Linked DNA regions of Homo sapiens: all the other regions are reported to be linked to region 2. The links are microRNA targets in miRTarBase. Many come from high-throughput screens and were not tested one by one. Region 2 holds a microRNA gene; each other region holds the end of a gene's coding sequence.
Evidence for each region. Region 2 holds the annotated microRNA hsa-miR-124-3p (UAAGGCACGCGGUGAAUGCCAA, at 1,246-1,267, opposite strand). A microRNA usually pairs through its seed, bases 2 to 8, with sites in the 3' UTR of a target mRNA and lowers its output. Matches are read on the target gene's strand: a 7mer-m8 pairs with bases 2 to 8, a 7mer-A1 pairs with bases 2 to 7 and ends in A, and an 8mer does both.

Region 1 (3,082 bases), not on the chromosome of region 2:
TATCAAAGGAAATGAGAATGACAGCCTTTTTTCCTGGGCCAGAAGTAGAGGGGTGGGTGCGTAAGGATGTGTGAGTTTTGCTTTTGACTCCAGGAACAAAAAGGTAAATCCCACATCCCAGTTTCTCAGAAGTCCCTGTTTATTCCAAATGCCATCCAGATGTGTGCAATGTGGCAAACTGAAGCTGCACAGTGTTGGTTTCCTTGTATTCTGAGGATGTTAAAGACTTTGTTAAATGGTTATCCAATTGCTCTTTCACAGGTAGCCTATTAAACTATTTTAATATGTTTTTTTAAACCTCATAAAAATCTAGCACACTCTTCTCTTGAGCAGTTAGCAGACCTAAAGCAAGCCTGAATTGGCTATGCAGTACATTGTATTCTGTTTGGGGGAATTTGTTTTAGCCATTTTCTTTAATTACCAGTTTTCCAGAACACTCTTAGCTATGTTGACATGAGGCAGTTCCTTCCAGGTGATTCTGTTTCCTTAAGTATTATATAAACTGTGCCAATACAGACAAAGCATAATCAATATAATCTGAATTATTGTTATCTTTACCTCCTGAGTAATAAGCATGGTGTCAGTTTTGTACATAGCAAATAAAATAAATGAAATCTGAACATGTGACTCTTTTGATGTTCCTTTATGAAAACTTTTCTAATGTCCATCTCACTGCAATTTATGAGTCCCTCTCAGAGCCTGAGAGGTTTCTGCTACTGCCAAGTCGAACTCTGTAACAAAACACTGAGGCAGGAAAAAATTAGAAGATGATCAAAGTCAAAGAGCTGAAACAGTCCTCTAACAAACAGTCAACAAACCCATAAGCTGCTTCAAGATAAGCCTATGCCTGCTTTTATCCCTGTCACACGCTAGAGTTCAACATATCAAAGCATGATGTAGGTTGATAAAAATAAATAAATTTTTTGAATAAAAAAAGAGTTCAAGAAAGGCATTTTCATACTTCTGTGGCCTTAGGATCATTTGTAGATAAAACAAAAGTAGAGAATGTTAAAGTCATTAAAATCAAATCCAAGCTGTGTGTGTATGAGTGTGTGTGTGTATATGTGTGTGTGTGTGTGCATATATTTATATATGTATAAAATATATCCTCTGAGAGGATAAACAAGAAATTAATACCATTGGGAATTTCCAAGGGAGGGAACTGACCTATCGGAGAGAGAGACAAGTCACTGAATATCATTTTACATCTTTTGAATTTTGAACCATTGGAATATACGGGGGGAAAAAGAAAAACATGGAATCTAAGGAAACAAGCAGATTGGTTTGGTGCTAGCTTCCAGTTGCTGGCCTTCCTCGGGACTTGATTAAGGATGGGGGTGAAATGCAGGCAAGTTAAGGAAGCAAGAAAAGGAAAATGAGAAGGTACTGCTGGGGCTTGAGGTTCATCCTCACAGGAAAGTGGTTAGCAAAGCTAATTTGATGAATACATGCTTTAAAACCTATTATGTTGCTAGCCTCAAATGGTTTGGAATTGTATATGATGCACAGATAAAATGTGTAATTCACCACATGAATAATTCTAAATATGGCTGTCAACCAAGTAGGGTATACTTCAAACACAATTTATTTTTAATTTATCAAACAAAAATCAACAATTTAAGTCACTGATTGGCAAGCTACAGCCTGCAGGCCAAACCCAGCCCTCCACCTGCTTTTGTAAATAAAGTTTTCTTGGATTACAGCCACACTCATTTACACGCATATTGTCTATTGCTGCTTTTGCATGTCAACAGCAGAGTTGAGTAGATGTGACAGAGGCCGCATGGCCTGCAAAGCCCAAAATATTTCCCGTCTGGCCCTTTACAGAAAAAGTTTGCTGACCCCTGATTTAAGTGATCATGATTTAAGGACAGGGTGATATCTGACAAAAGTATCAGTAAGAATGGGGACAGTGACCCATCAAATAGTAAGATCCCCGCAAACAGAAGGGAGATCAAGAAGTGTATATTTGACATCGTTTCTTTGACAAACGTTTTGATATAAATTATAATTACTTCAACTACACAATCAAATAATTTAACAAGAACCTTTTCCTCCCTGATTCAGTCACTTTATTATTTGAGCAAGAGAACAGATTGCTGCTTAGTCCAAAAGAGGTCACATCTGAAAGGGTGAAGAACAGCTTAACCATCTCTTATCTGCTGGTTCTTGAAGCAAGCTGAGAGTTGCTGTTTGTCTTCCAGATGCCCATTTCCTCATTGCAGCAGCTGAAGACTTGCTGTAGCCATATAACACAAGCTGGGAAGCAATGAACTCCTCCTCATCTCTCTGCTCCTAGGCTCCATGATTGTTCTATTTCTTTCCGGGGAAGGGTTACTGTCATTTGTTTTGTTTTGTTTTGTTTTTCTGAGAAACAGTGATTGGCTCAGTCATGATTGCTATTGAGTTTGTATGCTATTGGCATATCAGGCACTTGCTGACTAGAAAAGTTTTATGCAATAAGTTCATGTTTTTATGGTGCCAGATGGAAGACAGACCTTCAAGTTGAGTTCCCAGGATTCTACACACTCAGAATCTCAAAATCTTCCTCCAGATCAAACTCCTCCAGTTGCTCAGTAGAGTCAATGAATTCTATCAGAATACGGAAATGAGAAAGAAGAAAAGCTTGACACTTGGGTTGAAGTGGTCAGTAAATACTTTACTCAGTAGTTAAGACTAAGCATTTTTAATTGCTGTACTAAAGAAAGACTTGTGTGGAGGAGACTTACAATTAGAACTACTGCCAAGTATTAGAAATTATCTATAAAGACTCAAAATAGCCAGACTTGTTACATAAACCTAACGACGGTGATGTGGCCAAGGCTCTGAAAGCCCTTCAAGATACCTTTGAATTATCGATGGCCTCAATTTGCTATTCTGAACCAGACCATGAAAAAGCAATCCTAGTCATCTTGATTTTGCATAGAACTTTTGCAATGAGCTCATTTTCTTCTATTATCATTCTTTGAAATTGGTAAATATCAGCTCATCAGAAGATTAAAATAACCAGAAGTGCCATTTTTTTATCACTCCAGCTGAGTAGAAATTTTACTGTCCACAGAAAGCATGGGCCACAATTCTT
Region 2 (3,082 bases):
AGAGGCAGGTTCCCTTTGTGGCCCTGCAGCGGCGGTGGTGGGGGTGGAGATGCCACTGCCTGAAACTCAAATGGTTCCTTTTATCCTGATCTTCTGCTCCCTGCCTTGGGCCTGGAGCTGGGAGAACTTCAGGTGACTCAGACTCCTGCCTCGGATTGAAGCCGGGGAGGAGAGGCTCAGCCTCTACCTGGTTAAGAGGAAAGAGGCAAAGCTGCAAAGCCAGGTCTGGCACTCGCCCCAGGGGAAGGGGGCTTTTGGGGAGGGGGTCGTCCTCTGACTGTTACCGGGGCATCACAGCCCAGCCGGGGCCTGGGATGGGCGCGGGGGAGGCGGCGCAGAGGCGGTGCCGGGCGTCAGCAGGTGGCGCTGGCTTCCGGGGACAGAAAAAAAACCCCTGCAGCAAACCCGAGTGGGTGTCACTGCGGCTGCAGATGGCGGCGGGGGAGGGATTTGTCATTTTCTCCCTGGGCTGCGGAGTCTCACGTGCCTGGTCCTGCACAGCCCAGAGCCGGCTTTGGGGGCGGGATGCGGTCCGGCGTGTCCACCGCCCTCGTTTGGACCCTGGACGCGGACGCAGACCCCCGTCCCCATGCAAGCCTGGTCCTGGGCTGCGGGGGCTGCTCTGGGGCCACAGCGAGCGCCGCCTCCGCCCCGCCCCGCGGCGCAGCGGCCCGAGGAAGGGCAGACTTAGCGGTGACCTCAGACCCTGCCCCACCTCCTCCCACGTTGCCGTGGCAACTGTCCAGGGCGCCCGCTGTGGGGGCGAGGGCCGCACTTGGCCGCCCTCCCGTCCCGCGGGGGCCGCCCCGCCGCCAGCACCGCGGACAGCGCCGCACCCTAGCCCGCCGCCCCACGCACCCGCCCGCCGCTCCCCGTGGACCCTCCCTTTGTCTCCCGGGCCCCGCCGCCCTCTGCGGGCGCCTGGGCGCTCCGCGCTGCGGACACACGTGGCCGGGGGCCGGCTGGCCGCAGCCTGGCCCCGGCCGCAGGCTCCCCCCTCGGCCGCCCTCGGCCGCCCCCACCCGCCCCGCGACGCCAGAGGCGTGCGGGCCCCTTTGTGTCCCGCGGCCAGATCCCCGGCCCGGCAGCTGGGCCGCACTCTGGGCGGGCGCATTGTTCGCCGGATTTGTCCGCGGCGCGAATGGCCGCCGGGGGCCGGGCTCGCCTTCCTCCCGCGGGAGGGGCGCTGGGCCGGACGGGCTCGCGGGCCATTTCCATGAGAAAGGAGCGGCGGAGGCGCCTCTCTTGGCATTCACCGCGTGCCTTAATTGTATAGACATTAAATCAAGGTCCGCTGTGAACACGCAGAGGGGCCCTCAGGGCTGGGGCGGGCGGCGAGCGTCGGGGCCAGGGTCGGGACCGGCTCGGGCTTGCGTGGGGTCCTCGCCCGAGGGGCGCGAACGCTCAGGCGTCTTCGCCGCGTGGCGGGCAGGGCGGGGGCGCTGCGCTCAGCCGACTGTGCTGTCCCAGTCCGCCCCCGACTCGGAGGAGCCCACACTTCTCCCCTTTCCGCGGCAGAGAGTGGGCCCCCAAGTGCGTCCCTCCGGGCGTTCCTGGAGCTGGGGCGCCCGGGAATCGCGAAGACGGATTCCGGGGGTGGGGGTGGTGAGCGCGTGCGCACCCGGCCGCCTCCCGCGGGGCTCCGAGGGGCGCAGAACCGCTCCGACTGGGCGGCGCGAGCTCCTCCGCAGCTGCCTTCCCCTGCCGTCGCCCTGCCCGTGCCGACCCAGGAGCGCGCACCGAATGCGGTTAAAAGAACGAATCTCGATGCTCAAAGATGAAAACTCGTCTCTTTTTACAACCCAGCGAGCTCGTCCTCTCCGCGCGCAGCGGGCCCGCGAGAAGGCGCTCGAGCTGTTCGTGGAGAGAAAGACGGGGAGACCCAGAGAGGCCGCTTGCCCGGCTCGCCCCGGCCCGGCCCCGAGCGTAATTACCAGTCCCGGCGGGAGCCGCTGCTGCCGCCTCCGCTCCCTGCGCCTCCCGCGCCGCCGCCAGTTCCCGCCTGCTCTTCGGCTCCCGGGGGCCCCGCGCGCTGCTGCCCTGGGCGGAGAAGGGCGCGGGAACCCCGAGAAGGGAGCCAGGCAAGTCCCCGAGCGCCGCAGGCCGGCTGCGAGCCGAGTGTCCACGGGGTCCACGCTGCAGGCGCCCAGCTCCTGCTAGCCCGGCCCGGCCCCGATGCAACTGTCCCCGCGCCCGCCGCCGCCGCCGCCGTCGCCGTTGCCTCCGCGCGTATCCGCGCTCCGCTCCGGCACCGGCCGATTATCACTGGGGCGCGCGGTGACGTCACCCGGACACCGGCCCCGCCGCTGCCTCCCCGAGGTGTCCTTGAGAACTGCGGGGCACGCGCGCCGCGCACACGCGCACACACGCACTGCGCGCCTCGTGCCTCCCGCGCATTCGCACCGCGTCCCGCCCCGCGCGCTCCTCGGCTCACGCGGACTCAGCCATCGAGCGCCCTCGACCGTGCCCTGCGCCCGGCGGCCACACGGAGACCCAAGGAAACGCCTGTCTCCCACACACTCCAGCCCCTCACATGGCCCTCCTGCACCCACGCGCGCAGCCCCTCCAGCTGCACATTGACACCTCTAGCCACACCCCGCCACGCGCACGCCTCGCCACGCGCACGCCTCGCCGGCACGCAGCCCAGCGGCACCCGCAGACACGCACCCGCACTCGGGCCCTGACCGCGGGTTCGCGTCTCCTGTCTGGCGCCTGCAGAACGCACTCTGCCGCGCAGCTCACACCGCGGTCCTCCAAGCCTCTCAGTCCTGAGAAAGGCAAGGGTCCCGCCGGCCTCCTGCGGATGGCCCTGCTGGGCTCCGTACAGTGGGGTGGGAATTAAAGGTCGTCCTTCCCCGCCCCCATCGGAGCTTGCGGTTCTCACAGTTTCAGACCGGGATGGGAGCTCTTGCCCGTAGGGACCACGGAATCACAGGCGACACTCCACGGCCCGACTGCAGTCACTGCCAGCTCGATAGGGTCCTTGGGGCGCCCCCGATCTGGCCCTCTAGGGCCAGGGATCAGTGGCTTCCCCAAGCCTCACCGTCCGGAGCCTCCCCCGCTGGCCTTTGTTTAGACTGCA
Region 3 (3,072 bases), not on the chromosome of region 2:
GGCTCACTGCAGCCTCCACCTCCCGGATTCAAGTGATTCTCCTGCCTCAGCCTCCCAAGTAGCTGGGATTACGGGCATGCACCACCACGCCCAGCTAATTTTTTGTGTTTTTAGTAGAGACAGGGTCTCGTCATGTTGACCAGGCTTGTCTTGAACTCCTGAGCTCAGGTCATCCACCCACCTCGGCCTCCCAAACTGCTGGGATTATAGGTGTGACCCACTGCTCCCGGCCCTGAGAGAGGAGATTTTTTAAATATGGAGGTGGGACCCAAAAAGACAACCAAGGTGTTAGAGAGAGGTGGGCTTCTCCTTATGGCAGTTAGGAGACACTGGAAATATTCCATTTCATCAGTGGAGGCTCTGATTGGAAGGTTCCATCTGGTTCTTGGAGGTGACACAGAACTTGGATTCTGGAGCAGTTTGGGAGGTGCTGAGAGGTCCCCTTAGGAAGGGGTGGGAGGATAGAGACAGGCAGCGGATTTGCATGTGGGATGAGGAGGTGGGAGCTCCTGATGTCTGAAGATCCTGTCTCTCCCCAGCTGTTCCCCAGGGTGAAGCCTCAAAGGAGTAAAGTCTAGCAGGATAGAAGGAGGTTTCTGAGGCTGACAGAAACAAGCATTCCTGCCTTCCCTCCAGACCTCTCCCTCTGTTTTTTGCTGCCTTTATCTGCACCCCTCACCCTGCTGGTGGTGGTCCTTGCCACCGGTTCTCTGTTCTCCTGGAAGTCCAGGGAAGAAGGAGGGCCCCAGCCTTAAATTTAGTAATCTGCCTTAGCCTTGGGAGGTCTGGGAAGGGCTGGAAATCACTGGGGACAGGAAACCACTTCCTTTTGCCAAATCAGATCCCGTCCAAAGTGCCTCCCATGCCTACCACCATCATCACATCCCCCAGCAAGCCAGCCACCTGCCCAGCCGGGCCTGGGATGGGCCACCACACCACTGGATATTCCTGGGAGTCACTGCTGACACCATCTCTCCCAGCAGTCTTGGGGTCTGGGTGGGAAACATTGGTCTCTACCAGGATCCCTGCCCCACCTCTCCCCAATTAAGTGCCTTCACACAGCACTGGTTTAATGTTTATAAACAAAATAGAGAAACTTTCCTTATAAATAAAAGTAGTTTGCACAGAAATTGACTTTCTTCTCTTTTGATTCTGTTTTGACTCAATACATGCTCATCATTGTGGTTATGATTTTTGGCAAGGCAGTCTGAAAGTAGCCCTTTCTTCTTCTTCTTCTTTTTTTTTTTTTTTTTTTGATCTCACTCTAGTGCCCAGGCTGGGGCACGATAGCGCAATCTCAGCTCACTGCAACCTCTGCCTCCTGAGTTCAAGCGATTCTCCTGCCTCAGCCTCCCGAGTAGCTGGGATTACAGGCATCTGCCACCCCACCTGGCTAATTTTTGTATTTTCAGTAGAGACGGGGTTTCACCATGTTGGCCAGGCTGGTCTTGAACTCTTGACCTCAGGTGATCCACACACCTCGGCCTTCCAAAGTGCTGGGATTACAGGCCATTAGCCACCATGGCCAGCCTGAAAGTAGCCCTTTCTAAGGGATTCTTTTCACACAAGTCCAATCCTTTATTTTATATTTCGGATTCTTCTTTTGTGTCCTTTAGTTTCAAGTACATGCCTGATAATTCTATCACCTGAAGTTTGGAGGCAGCTAATCCTATAGTTTGTTGTGTCTGCTGGTTCTCACTCATGGTGGGCTGTTTCCTTGGGTGTTGAAATTGTAGGTTGAGAGGCCAGGCGCGGTGGCTCACGCCTGTAATTTCAGCACTTTGGGAGGTCAAGGCGGGTGGATCACTGGAGGCCAGGAGTTTAAGACCAGCCTGGCCAACATGGTGAAACCTCATCTCTACTAAAAAGCACAAAAATTAGCCTGGTGTGGTGGTAGGTGCCTGTAGTTCCAGCTACTTGGGAGGCTGAGGCAGGAGAATCTGTTAAACCCGGGAGGCGGAAGTTGTGGTGAGCCAAGATTGCACCATTGTACTCCAGCCTGGGCTACAAGAGCAAAATTCCCTCTCAAACAAACAAACAAAAATCTCTGCCAGCTTGGACAACATAGGGAGACCCTGTGTCGATCAAAAATAAAAAAATTAAGCCAGGTGTGTGGCTCACGCTTGTAATCCCAGCAATTTGGGAGGCTGAGGCAGATGGATCACCTGAGGTCAGGAGTTTGAGACCAGTCTGACCAATATGGTGAAACCTGGTGTCTACTAAAAATACAAAAATTAGCCCGCCGTGGTGGTGTGCACCTGTAGTCCCAGCTACTTGGGAGGCTGAGAAAGGAGAATCGCTTGAACCCGGGAGATGGAGGTTGCAGTAAACCGAGATCACGCTACTGCACTCCAGCCTGGGTGACAGAGCAAGACTCTGTCTGAAAAAAAAAAAAGAAAAAAAAAATTGCCGGGCGTGGTGCCTCACGCCTGTAATCCCAGCACTTTGGGAGGCCAAGGCAGGTGGATCACCTGAGGTCAGGAGTTCGAGACCAGCCTGACCAATATGATGAAACCCCGTCTCTACTAAAAATACAAAAATTAGCTGGGCGTGATGGCATGTACCTGTAATCCCAGCTACTCAGGAAGCTGAGACAGGAGAATCACTGGAATCCAGGAGGCAGAGGTTGCAGTGAGCTGAGATAGCACCATTGCACTCCAGCCCGGGCAACAAGAGCGAAACTCCGTCACAAAAATATAATAAATAAATAAATAATTAGCTGAGCGTGGTAATGTACACCTGAGGTCCCAGCTACTCAGGAAGCCAAGGTGGAAGGATCGCTTGAGCTCAGGAGGTAGAAGCTGCAGTAAGCTGTGATCACGCCACTGCATTCCAGCCTCTGCCACAGAATAGACTTTGTCTCAAAATAATTTTTATTTATTTTATTATTTTTATTTTTTTATTTTATTTTTATTTTTATTTATTATTTATTATTATTTTTTTTTTTTTGCGACGGAGTCTCGCTGTTTCGCCCAGGCCGGACTGCATTGGCACTATCTCGGCTCACTGCAAGCTCCGCCTCCTGGGTTCATGCCATTCTCCTGCCTCAGCCTCCCGAGTAGCTGGGGCTAC
Region 4 (3,082 bases), not on the chromosome of region 2:
GTTCCAGAACAGCCTAGAGGCAGCAACCCAGGGAAGGGAGCCATTCTGAACCATGAGTTCCCCCAAGCCTGAACTTGTCCTTCGAGCTTCACTCCCTTGCTATTGTTGACCCATTCTGAAAGGACTGGGGTCTCCTAATCATGCCCTGGGGCCCACTCTTCCGCAGTGCTGAAGGAGATCCTGGTAGCCCTCTATGGAGAGGTGGTCTCCAAGTGCTAGGCACTGGGCCGACAGAAAGCTGCTTCCCAAGCTTTGTGAAAGGAATCATCAGAGGCATCTTAAGAGGCAGGGGCTGATTCAGCAAGGCTGGGGTGCTTTGAGATTGTCCATGTCTGATCTACGCACCACGCTTTGAACACTATGTAGCTGAAGGACTGTATCTCAACATTTCTACACATTAGAATCACCTGGGAGGCTTCCTCGATCCATAGAGGCGCCCACGCCTCACTCCTACTTAAATCCAGACTAGGCATGCAGGGTGCTGGAGCCCAGGCATCAGTATTTTTCTTTTTTTTCTTTTTTTTGAGATGGAGTCTCACTCTGTCACCAGGCTAGAGTGCGGTGGCACGATCTCGGCTCACTGCAACTTCTGCCTCCTGGGTTCAAGTGATTCTCCTGCCTCAGCCTCCCGAGTAGCTGGAACTACAGGCACGCACCACCATGTCTGGCTAATTTTTGTATTTTTAGTAGAGACGGGGTTTCACAATGTTGGCCAGGATGGTCTCAATCCCCTGACCTTGTGATGTGCCTGCCTTGACCTCCCAAAGTGCTGGAATTACAGGCGTGGGCCACCGCGCCCAGCCCTAGGCATCAGTATTTTTCTAAACATTCCCCAGGTGATTCTTAAAGTGGCCAGGTTCAAGAACAGCTGATCTAAAGGTTCAACTCACTGTAAGCATGGAACAGCCTCAAAGGAACTTCCTGCAAGTGATCCAGACTTAACTCTGTTGGTCTTAACTGCTTTTAATTTTCTTGTCCCCACTGACCAGTTATGTGCTGAAGGCAATTAATTGCCACCTCTCATTTTAACTCCTTTCAACAGAGGAAATAAGCAGGCGTATTCCTCCTTCTCTGTATCTCACCCCAGTTCCTGACCCAGGGTGTACTTGACAGGTTAACACTTGGCGATGCATGACATTGAGGTGCCTTCCTCTCCCTAACCTGAAGGACGCTCTAGTGAGCAATTATCACACCAAAAGAAAGATGAAGGAGTCTGCAGCATTCAAAGACAGAAGAGCAGCCAGGCATGGTGGCTCACACTTGTAATCCCAGCACTTTGGGAGGCCGAGGCGGGTGGATCACGAGGTCAGGAGTTCAAGACCAGCTAGGACAACACAGTGAAACCCCATCTCCATTAAAAATACAAAAATCAGCTGGGCGTGGTGGCAGGCGCCTGTAATCCCAGCTACTCGGAAGGCTGAGGTGGGAGAATTGCTTAAACCCAGAGAGGCAGAGGTTGCAGGGAGCCAAGATCGTGCCACTGCACTCCAGCCTAGGCAGCAGAGCTAGACTCCGTCTCAAAGAAAAAAAAGAGCACTGAGAACCAGCTGTAAATGGTGATCTACTCTTGCTAAAACGATTCCTTAAGCTCAACAGAGTCAATCTTGTTTCAAATGCATTTAGTGGCAGAAAAACAAACTAATTTTCTTTCATTATTTGACTGGACTCAATGCATTCAAGTCATGAAAGTTGATGATTCCAAATTCAGAATAAAATAACACATGACACAGATAGTTTAGCATTTTATCCTCATTTTTAACCTACAAAGTGTAATGTTCTCATAAAGTATTTTAATAAATATATTAAGGCTTAAGGTAATTACTGGTTTGAGTGGCGGGTGGTTTGCTTTCTAGCACACTAGTTTACATTCGGAATCTTAAAAATGAAAACATTTGCCATCTTACAGTGAGTGATACATCACATTGGCTTGCCCCAGTTTTTGTGTTCTTTTTTTTTTTTTCACTATTCAACATGTCTTCGTATTATCTTCCTTCCTCTCGTATCTGATAGACAAAGAATGATATAAAATTTTGGTTGAAAAAAGCCAGTTGATTGGGATGACTAGAAATGTTAACTTTTTCAGTAAAAAGCTTTCACCGAATCACTGGGCAGTTAGTAATGCAGCTTACAAATAAATAAAGCTGAGGCGAGAGGTTTAAACAGCAAGAAAAGCTGCAGAGCATATTGAGGAAGGGAAGCAGTGAAATGGTGGTTTTAATACATCCCAAACTGGAAGCAAGAACCCTAACACAAAGAGGATTGGAATACTCTACCATCTGTAAGGAAGTAGCTAGCTACAAGCCACCTCACACAAAACACCCACTAAGGCCTTTCACCGAGATCCTCTTGTTATATTCTCATTATGAATCCCCAGCAGGTGCACCTCAATAAATAGGTGTGGAGGATACTGCTGAGGACCTCTAGGTCACCTAAGCAGAAACTGCTGCCATCAAAGCAGACTGCCACCATGCATCCGCGGAGAACTCCCTGCCTACAAATGAAACTGGTAGCGCTCATCCCCTGTGCCCGAGGACCGTCCACAACGGAGGTGCTTTCTTGCAAGAGAAGCAGCAAATGATGACAGCGTGTCCAGTAGGAAGGGCTTCCCAACAGTCACATCCCTCCCAAGACCCTCTAGATGGACTCCAGAATCCAGTCGCTGCTGGAGAGGGAGGAGACAGGCAGTGACAAGTCCCGAGGAGGGCCTCGGTCCCTCCTGTCGTGCAGGGAGTTCTGCTCCTGGAAATATTCCTCCTCTTCATCGAAGAAGCCGTTCTCCAGAGCGTAAGTGCAGTCTGGGCTGGAGGCTGCCTGGCATGCCCCCTTGTACTCCTGAATCGACTCGTAGAGGCTGTACAGTTGGCAGAGCAAGGACATGTCCAGCTGGCGGAGACCAACCTTGAGGGAAGGGGTGGGGAGGTAAAAAACGAGAAGTCAGCACTTGAGTTTAATTTCAGTGGAACACTCAGCCGGCGATCTGCGCCTGCCAGCACATTCCTTCCACACGGCGCATGATTCAGAGCATCACTCGGATGCTTTGGATTTCCAGTTTTGAGAACACCTTAATTGTGTTATGCCCATA
Region 5 (3,082 bases), not on the chromosome of region 2:
TGGCGCCAGTAAGTATGACTCCAATCCTGGAAAACATCTGCCCTCCATCCCCAACTTCCACCCCTTTATCTAAGCTGCTTCACAAAGGCTAATCTCACTGTGGCTTCAGGTTCGTAATCTGGGCTTCTCTCCCTGACCCGTGCTCCTCTTGTCCCCACAGAGTTCTCCATCAGCAGCTTCTGCACCGTGGTGGACGTCGTGAACTTCTCCAAGCTGCAGGTGCTGCGCCTGGACGGGAACGAGATCAAGCGCAGCGCCATGCCTGCCGACGCGCCCCTCTGCCTGCGCCTTGCCAGCCTCATCGAGATCTGAGCAGCCCTGGCACCGGGTACTGGGCGGAGAGCCCCCGTGGCATTTGGCTTGATGGTTTGGTTTGGCTTTTGCTGGAAGGTCCAGGATGGACCATGTGACAGAAGTCCACGGGCACCCTCTGTAGTCTTCTTTCCTGTAGGTGGGGTTAGGGGGGGCGATCAGGGACAGGCAGCCTTCTGCTGAGGACATAGGCAGAAGCTCACTCTTTTCCAGGGACAGAAGTGGTGGTAGATGGAAGGATCCCTGGATGTTCCAACCCCATAAATCTCACGGCTCTTAAGTTCTTCCCAATGATCTGAGGTCATGGAACTTCAAAAGTGGCATGGGCAATAGTATATAACCATACTTTTCTAACAATCCCTGGCTGTCTGTGAGCAGCACTTGACAGCTCTCCCTCTGTGCTGGGCTGGTCGTGCAGTTACTCTGGGCTCCCATTTGTTGCTTCTCAAAATATACCTCTTGCCCAGCTGCCTCTTCTGAAATCCACTTCACCCACTCCACTTTCCTCCACAGATGCCTCTTCTGTGCCTTAAGCAGAGTCAGGAGACCCCAAGGCATGTGAGCATCTGCCCAGCAACCTGTGGAGACAACCCACACTGTGTCTGAGGGTGAAAGGACACCAGGAGTCACTTCTATACCTCCCTAACCTCACCCCTGGAAAGCCACCAGATTGGAGGTCACCAGCATGATGATAATATTCATGACCTGATGTGGGAGGAGACAGCCAACCTCAGGCTTAGATCAATGTATAGGGCTATATTTTGGCAGCTGGGTAGCTCTTTGAAGGTGGATAAGACTTCAGAAGAGGAAAGGCCAGACTTTGCTTACCATCAGCATCTGCAATGGGCCAAACACACCTCAAATTGGCTGAGTTGAGAAAGCAGCCCCAGTAGTTCCATTCTTGCCCAGCACTTTCTGCATTCCAAACAGCATCCTACCTGGGTTTTTATCCACAAAGGTAGCGGCCACATGGTTTTTAAAGTATGAGAAACACAGTTTGTCCTCTCCTTTTATCCAAGCAGGAAGATTCTATATCCTGATGGTAGAGACAGACTCCAGGCAGCCCTGGACTTGCTAGCCCAAAGAAGGAGGATGTGGTTAATCTGTTTCACCTGGTTTGTCCTAAGGCCATAGTTAAAAAGTACCAGCTCTGGCTGGGGTCCGTGAAGCCCAGGCCAGGCAGCCAAATCTTGCCTGTGCTGGGCATACAACCCTCTGCTTTCACATCTCTGAGCTATATCCTCATTAGTGAAGGTGGCTTTTGCTTTATAGTTTGGCTGGGGAGCACTTAATTCTTCCCATTTCAAAAGGTAATGTTGCCTGGGGCTTAACCCACCTGCCCTTTGGGCAAGGTTGGGACAAAGCCATCTGGGCAGTCAGGGGCAAGGACTGTTGGAGGAGAGTTAGCCCAAGTATAGGCTCTGCCCAGATGCCATCACATCCCTGATACTGTGTATGCTTTGAAGCACCTTCCCTGAGAAGGGAAGAGGGGATCTTTGGACTACGTTCTTGGCTCCAGACCTGGAATCCACAAAAGCCAAACCAGCTCATTTCAACAAAGGAGCTCCGATGTGAGGGGCAAGGCTGCCCCCTGCCCCAGGGCTCTTCAGAAAGCATCTGCATGTGAACACCATCATGCCTTTATAAAGGATCCTTATTACAGGAAAAGCATGAGTGGTGGCTAACCTGACCAATAAAGTTATTTTATGATTGCATCTACAAGAGTGGAGTCATTTAAAGCAGACTGCAGGAGGGTTACTTTAGGAGGACCTGGTGAGGTCGCAGGTCACACAGGCCTTGGACTGATGAGCCCTCTTTCTCATCTATTCTGTTCGGGCAGATGAAGCTAAGAGGAAAAAAAAATGAAAAAAAAAAGTCACTTGTATAAAAGCTGTAGTTAGCAAACTGTGTTCTGGAAGTTCTTCTTTAAGTCTAACTTCAATCCTCTCTACACATTCCCTTCCATATGGTCCCCAAGAGATATAGAATAACTGGGGTTTTTTTTTCAACCCTTTCCACCATCCTCTCTTGCAAAGCCGGTAATTCGGGATCTGGCTAGTCCTGGGTATTGTTGTCTTAACTGCTTCTGCCCTCTAGTGGCAACTGTGCAGATCTGAGGGCAGCCAAGCCTGCCAAAGCCCGTTGGCCCTGGAAGAGGAAAACAAACCTTTACCCCCCATTTGTTTTCTCATTCATCCTGTGTTCATATCGTGAAAGCCTTTGAGTGCCAGATGTTGTGATAGGTGCTTAGCAAATGTCGCATAAGTTAGGAGGGCAGACTAGGCTTGTGCCTTCAGAACAATCCACTATTTTCTGATAGGGAAATAACAACTGATAGTTATTGGGCACTAAATTCTGTACCAAGCATGTTGCAAATGTTACAACTCCATCTTAAGCCAAAGTAAACTAATTTGACTATACTTCTCTGACGTGAGAGTTAGGCAGGAATGCTAGTGTGTGAAACTACCAGAAAGAAATCATAGCTCTAATCACAGTCCTCTCCTCAAGGACAGCAGATAAGGCCCCTCTGCCTTGGATCTCCAGTACAGGAAGATGCCATGTGGAGGAGACAGAGATGTGGCACATAGGGCAGGAATTATCTAACTATAAGGAGGAATCCTCTGCCTCTCCGTTTTTGCTTCTTTGCAGCTCCCATGAGCATCCCAACCAAGACAGAGCAGGGAGAGGAATGGGAGCCAGCCCTGCTGCAAGGCTTCCCTTGTTTCTAAACCCAGTGCTTTGTAAGAAACAGAGTAGCAAGAATAGACTG
Region 6 (3,082 bases), not on the chromosome of region 2:
GGCTGGTGGTGCCCCAGCCCCAGCGCCCTGACAAGTGCCCGCTGCCGCCCATGGCACCCGAGACCCCACCGGTCCCCTCCTCGGCCTCGTCATCCTCTTCTTCTTCTTCCTCCCCATTCAAGTTTAAGCTCCAGCCGCCCCCACTCGGACGCCGGCAGCGGGCAGCTGGGGAGAAGGCCGTAGCCGGTGCTGACAAGAGCGGTGGCAGTGCAGGCGGGCTGGCTGAGGGGGCAGGGGCGCTAGCCCCACCGCCCCCGCCACCACAGATCAAGGTGGAGCCCATCTCGGAAGGCGAGTCGGAGGAGGTAGAGGTGACTGACATCAGTGATGAGGATGAGGAAGACGGGGAGGTGTTCAAGACGCCCCGTGCCCCACCTGCACCCCCTAAGCCTGAGCCCGGCGAGGCACCCGGGGCATCCCAGTGCATGCCCCTCAAGCTACGCTTTAAGCGGCGCTGGAGTGAAGACTGTCGCCTCGAAGGGGGTGGGGGCCCCGCTGGGGGCTTTGAGGATGAGGGTGAGGACAAGAAGGTGCGTGGGGAGGGGCCTGGGGAGGCTGGGGGGCCCCTCACCCCAAGGCGGGTGAGCTCTGACCTCCAGCATGCCACGGCCCAGCTCTCCCTGGAGCACCGAGACTCCTGAGGGCTGTGGGCAGGGGACCTGTGTGCCCCGCACCCCCCATGCTTCTTTTGCTGCCTTAAGCCCCCTATGCCCTGGAGGTGAGGGCAGCTCTCTTGTCTCTTCCCTGCCTCCTCCCTTTTCCCTCCCCACATTTTGTATAAAACTTTAATTTCTTTTTTTTAAAAATGGTGGGGGTGGGTGGGTGCCCAGGGCTAGGGGCTATTCCCTGTCTCTGTGGGTTTCTAAGCTCTGGGCAAAGTGGTGGTAGGGGGAGGGAGGGGGAAGTTAAGGGGGTCACCTCCATTCTGGGGAATTTATATTTGAATTGAGGCTTTGGCCTTAACACCCAGGAACTTTTCTATTACAATCGCTTAGGAAGTAAAGCCTTGTCTCCCTCCCTGTTCTCTGCCTCTTGTACCCCTCTGACCCACCCGCTCTGCCCCACTCCCAGCCCTCCTCAGCCCCAGCCCTGCCTGCCCTGCCCCTCCAGGGGGCCATGAGTGCCTAGGTTTCTCATACCCCACAAGGTCACAGCAGGGGAGGGAGGGACAATTTTATAATGAACCAAAAATTCCATGTGTTGGGGGGTGGGGGGCGGAGGAGGGTGAGGGGTGCCGCCCATGGGCCACAAATCTCTACAAGTGCCTGCTATCCCTCTCCCACTCCCCACCCCAGCACCGGTCCAACCCCTTCATCCCCAGCTGCTCCTAGGACTGGCCCATGGGCAGGCGGGTGGGGGGATGGGAAGGGGGTGCCCTGAAACCAAACTGGAAGCCCCCTCTGCCTCCCAGCTGGGGCCTCTGGGGTGGGGTGGGGGGCTGTGGTCAAGCCTTATTCTGTATTGGGGACTGAGGGTGGGGGGAGTAGAGGGGCCGCTGGAGAATGTATTCAAAACAATAAAACTTTGGACCTTTGGATGCAGTGATCAATGTCCTAGGTGCTCGGTGCAGCCCCCTGAGGGCCACAGCTTTTGCTTGATTCTGAAGGAGGGGCCCCACCCTGGCTGCTAGTGGGTCTGTGGCCAGATCAGTATAGAGGGCCTAACCCTAATCAGAATGGGCCAAATCCAGGCCTGGGAAACCGTCTCCTGACCTCAGAGGCACATGAGCCCCAGAGCTTGATGATAGTGGTCTCAGGCATGCGCCGGCTTCATCAGACTGCTCCTCTGTTCCATGGGGACCTTGTCCTTGAAAGCTCTTCCCACTGTTTTTCACCACAACCCCACTGCCCTTGCTCTTCTGATTGCCTGGATGCCTTCCCACTTGTGGCTAGGAATTCTTCCCACACCCCAGGTCCCCAGTGAAGACCAGGAGCTCCCTTTTGCACTGCCCCTCGCACCCTGCCCACACCCCTCTCTTGTTGCTCTGAGTTCAGCTGGGAGTCCTTTGGAGAACAGCCTGTGGTGTCTCTTGAAATGTAGACCTTGCAAGGTAACTTGGTGATCTTCAGGTCCAGGTATGGGAACACCCCCAGCCAGCACACAGCCAAGGGACTGGCTCACTAGTCATCGATGCTGTTGACCTACTGTGTGTCCAATACTTAAGAGCTGCAGTGTTGTAGCTCCTTCAGTATCCAGTAAGGTAGGGGCAACCAGTGCTGCTAAGTGACTTGCCCAGGGCCCTGTGGCTGAGCCAGGACTTCAAAGCCCACGTTCTTTCAACAACTCCTGACTTTTCCTTCCTAACACCAAGATAGTTGGATCCAGATCAGGCTTTCAGGATCAGAGGATTTGAGATGAGCTCATAGAGCTAGAAGCTGAGATTGGAGAGCTTGAATCAGGGATGAAAGAATTAGGAGGAATAATCCAGGCTGGAAGTACCCTTAGAGACAAGTTCTGTCTCCACCATGCAGGTGAGGTGCCTGAGGCCCAGAAAGGGGAAGGGGTTTCCCCAAGGCCACACAGCTGCTAAGAGATGGAGTGGCAATTGAGGGCTTGTTGGACTGGCTTCGCCATGAAACTCCACCCTGTGCAACCCTGAGGGGGAAGAAACGTTGACTGGCAACTGCTACCCACTCGCATCTCATTTCATGCCAGCCAGGGTGGGTGGTCCCAGATGATGTCGGTTGGCAGGGAAGAGAGGATCCAGGGCTAGGATACTGGCAGGAAACCGAGGCTCCCGAGGCGGCCTGCGGGAAACTGCTCCCTCTCCTGGGTGATGTAAGTCATTCCCTGGGGTGGGGGCCACTGGGCTATTTCTGGAAGCTGGGATGAGACATGTCTCCTGGCAACATAGTTGCAGCTGAGTTGGTGGTGGTGGTGGGGTGATGGAGAAGGGGATGTTGTCACTCGGGAGGAGAGGACCCTAACTACTGGCCTCAGCCCCTGAACCCAGTGCCTTCAAAGCACCTCTAACCACATCTAATATGGAATCATAAGTGCTCAGCTCAGCTCCCTAACTGCTGTCCAGGTCAGACCACAGCCCTACCAGACAAGTTGCCCCAGATTCTGGCTGTGTAGGATG
Region 7 (3,082 bases), not on the chromosome of region 2:
CAGTCAACAAAAAAGCCTCTAGAGACATGACTGTTGCCATGGAAACCAGAGAAAATGTGTCTTCTCATCCCTCATTTGTAAATGAGGGGGTGGAGCAGATCATCTGTCTCTAAGGTCTTTTTCAGTGCTAAAATGTGGTGATTCTTTGGGAAAAACTTTTTGCATCAAGTATGATTAAATATTCTGAAAGACGAGTGTAGCTTAAAATTTTTTTTGTTTTTAAATTCTGTTCATGGGTCTTCTTAAAATGGACCCTTGCCGAAAGGCGGCCTGTGACGGCCTCAGGTGGGAAGATGGATGTCCTTCCAAGGGTGTGGCTGGCAGTGGGGTTTGCATGACTGCTTCTTGTCTGTGTTTCAAGTGCTCTCATCTATTGGTTTGGTTTCCTTTCTTTTTTTTTTTTTTCTCATTGTGCCACTTTTTTTTTCCTCCCACCTTTTTATCTTCACGCAGATAAGTTTCTTTGCTTCACTTCTCCCAAGACTCCCTCGTCGAGCTGGATGTCCCACCTCTCTGAGCTCTGCATTTGTCTATTCTCCAGCTGACCCTGGTTCTCTCTCTTAGCATCCTGCCTTAGAGCCAGGCACACACTGTGCTTTCTATTGTACAGAAGCTCTTCGTTTCAGTGTCAAATAAACACTGTGTAAGCTATTTCTGTTTGCTATTCTTTTTACTTCTTATTTATTGACATTTTAGTTTCAACATTGAATAAAACTACAAAGCTGCTTCACACATATGAGGGTTAGTGTTTGGCTGCTGCTTTTTCTTTTTAAATACTGAACACTATACAGAATTATATCAGGAGTTTCTAAAGCAGTAGTTCCTTGTTGAACTTCAAAAAAATACCCAGGCCTGCATTCCCTCTCAGAGTTCTGATTTTCAAAGGTTAGAATGAGGTCTGGACATCTGGGGGGGTTTTGGGGGAATTGTGATGGCTCTGCTTTGCAGTCTGGGTCACACAGGGGACATTGCTTGTTGAGAGTTGAAAGGTCTGGCTTGATCAGTGTCTTCCTTTGCTGGAGGTTTAGCTCGGGATGTAGTGACCCCTCTGTGTTGATTATTTCGGTGGCCTTACTTGGGAGGACCTGGCTAACTAATGAAAGGCTCATGATGAATGGTTCTGTAGCTGTCCCATATTACTAGGAAGTTATACATTGAGAAGGGTGAAAAAGAACTTGGATTCAAACAATGTAAGTTTTGGTTATTGTCGATCATCCTTTTATAGCACAAAGAAAAGTTCAAGCTTTTTTGAAGTATATTCATGACTCAGCCACCTTTATTTTGATCATGAAAATGACATCTTAGGTTTTCTAAATATGATTACTCTGTTTAGTCGTGATTTGTTTTGTGCTTTTTAGCACATACTCTTTGGGAGGGATTGTACATAATCTTTGTGTTCAATGGCTGTGTTTTCATTTGTGGACATTTTTAAAATATAGCAATGAAAGTTTCTTTTTTTTTTTCCCAAAAAGATAGTTGGTGGAAATTGTTCAGAAGACAATTGTATTTCATTTGGGCTTCTGTTTTATTTCACAAACAGCAATTAAGTGATTTTTTTAAAAAAATACATTGCAAAAAATAGAACTTTAACTAATATGGACTTTAGTGTTATAATTCCCAACATTTCTCCTTCCTCAACAATCTAGCTATATATTTCTCCTGTTTTTTTTTTAACATGGATGATCTGCATGTTTTGTATATAGTTTTTTTAGCCCGAGAGGGCTGATATACCACCATACTCAAATAAATTTGGACAAACTCAGAAGATAGTGTCATTCTCACTCTACAGAGACTTCAAAGCATAGAGGAAATACTTTTTTTTAAAGAAAGCTGTGAATTAAAGTATTTTAGTCATAGTATGGTGGAATTTTAGAATCTGGACAATGTCTCTCCCTTGAGTTTATAAAGACTTCCATGATTTCATGCTTTTCTTTTCTTAAGGCTCCTTGGGCCTGCTTCTGACTATGATTCCTTCCTCATTCTTTTTTAAATTCAGAATAAGAGAAGTGTACCCTTCTCTGAGTAAATCCTGCTTCCTGATGTAGACAAAATGCCAAGTCTGAAAGTTCTGCTGAGCAGATGTTCATGTAATTCTGGAGGCACATCTGTGTTTTGGAAATCCTTCCAGAGACTTTCGCACTTTCTATAAGTACACTCTACAAGGGGAAGTGGGGCACTAATGGACTGGGAGGGCAGGTCAGGAGTAGCCCAAGGTATGCATGTGCAAGAGGAAAACTTGATAAACTCAAGTTTATCAAGAAATTGTTGATTTCTTGTTCAACTGTTGATTTGAACCAGGCTTCTGGTTCAAAGGGCCAGGCCATAGCTACAGCTGCTCTGGTGGGCCAAACCAAAAGCATCACTGAGTTTGGGCACTTGAAGTTTCAGACAGCTGGGAGTCTCCATAGAACCGGAAGGGAAAACACTTCCAAGGATATGAGCATGTCTTGTCCCTGCCTTTGGGCCACCCATGCACACCAGCTCCACAGCAGCTGAAGCAGAGCAGATCCAGAGGAGGCTGTCGGAGGGACCACTGTCCTTCCTGCTGAATTCATACTGACCCTCTGGATTCTCCAGATTTTCTCCAAAGTTCTTCCATTCTAGCCTGGCCAAACATTTGGGCTCAGCAAACTGAGACAAGCTCCCCACCCATGGCGACACTTCCTATGTCCATAGTGTGAATGTAGTAATGGGATATATGTCTTGGAACCCCCAAGCATATGTCACGTGCAAAACACCGTGGGAAGCAGTGGGGGTGTGGTAAAGAGATGGGCTGGAAAGGCTCTTTGTCCTCAATAAGCTGGGCATCTGATGGGGAGATAGAGGAGTGAAGCGAGTCCGAACTAATAGGCATGTGTATTTGGAGGCAACAAGGAAGAGAGAACCATTCTGACTGGGAGCTCCCTGGAGGAGGTAGCGGACGTTTGACTGGGGTTTGGCATATTCAAAAAATGTGGATGAGCAAAGAGGACAGAGCAGCAGATATTCCAAGCGAGAAAACATAACGAGCATAGCATCCTCCCATGTCCTACCATTTATAAGAGAATGTTAATGTGAGAACTGCTCAGTCTCCTGACAGACC

Region 1: miRTarBase lists ATG4A as a target of hsa-miR-124-3p. The part of its 3' UTR that is shown has no 7-base or 8-base seed match.
Region 3: miRTarBase lists PPP1R13L as a target of hsa-miR-124-3p. Seed matches in the 3' UTR shown: 7mer-A1 at 767-773 and 7mer-m8 at 1,049-1,055.
Region 4: miRTarBase lists FAM89A as a target of hsa-miR-124-3p. The part of its 3' UTR that is shown has no 7-base or 8-base seed match.
Region 5: miRTarBase lists FMOD as a target of hsa-miR-124-3p. Seed matches in the 3' UTR shown: 8mer at 837-844.
Region 6: miRTarBase lists ERF as a target of hsa-miR-124-3p. Seed matches in the 3' UTR shown: 7mer-A1 at 693-699.
Region 7: the mRNA of TPM1 is a reported target of hsa-miR-124-3p. Seed matches in the 3' UTR shown: 7mer-A1 at 570-576.

Annotation. Positions count from the first base shown.
Region 1 is chrX:108,153,152-108,156,233 of GRCh38, reverse strand. It overlaps ATG4A (autophagy related 4A cysteine peptidase), which reads right to left. Exons shown (of 13, transcript NM_052936.5): 13 at 1,563-2,592. The coding sequence ends at 2,522. It overlaps COL4A6 (collagen type IV alpha 6 chain), which reads left to right. Exons shown (of 45, transcript NM_033641.4): 45 at 1-620. Among named protein-coding and RNA genes, the nearest start is that of ATG4A, 63 kb to the right of the region's middle.
Region 2 is chr20:63,176,737-63,179,818 of GRCh38, reverse strand. MIR124-3 (microRNA 124-3) reads right to left here and starts at 1,319; the gene lies at 1,233-1,319. RefSeq lists a silencer at 535-824 and an enhancer at 1,112-2,072.
Region 3 is chr19:45,377,696-45,380,767 of GRCh38, reverse strand. It overlaps PPP1R13L (protein phosphatase 1 regulatory subunit 13 like), which reads left to right. Exons shown (of 13, transcript NM_006663.4): 13 at 540-1,130. The coding sequence ends at 578. Among named protein-coding and RNA genes, the nearest start is that of ERCC2, 8.7 kb to the right of the region's middle.
Region 4 is chr1:231,017,229-231,020,310 of GRCh38, forward strand. FAM89A (family with sequence similarity 89 member A) reads right to left here. Exons shown (of 2, transcript NM_198552.3): 2 at 1,730-2,898. The coding sequence ends at 2,635. MIR1182 (microRNA 1182) reads right to left here and starts at 2,696; the gene lies at 2,600-2,696.
Region 5 is chr1:203,339,573-203,342,654 of GRCh38, reverse strand. FMOD (fibromodulin) reads left to right here. Exons shown (of 3, transcript NM_002023.5): 3 at 161-2,027. The coding sequence ends at 312. Among named protein-coding and RNA genes, the nearest start is that of FMOD, 10 kb to the left of the region's middle. RefSeq lists an enhancer at 1-264.
Region 6 is chr19:42,246,024-42,249,105 of GRCh38, reverse strand. It overlaps ERF (ETS2 repressor factor), which reads left to right. Exons shown (of 4, transcript NM_006494.4): 4 at 1-1,537. The coding sequence ends at 641. Among named protein-coding and RNA genes, the nearest start is that of GSK3A, 5.0 kb to the right of the region's middle. RefSeq lists a silencer at 1,655-1,949.
Region 7 is chr15:63,065,443-63,068,524 of GRCh38, forward strand. TPM1 (tropomyosin 1) reads left to right here. Exons shown (of 10, transcript NM_001018005.2): 10 at 454-736. The coding sequence ends at 457. Among named protein-coding and RNA genes, the nearest start is that of TPM1-AS, 18 kb to the left of the region's middle.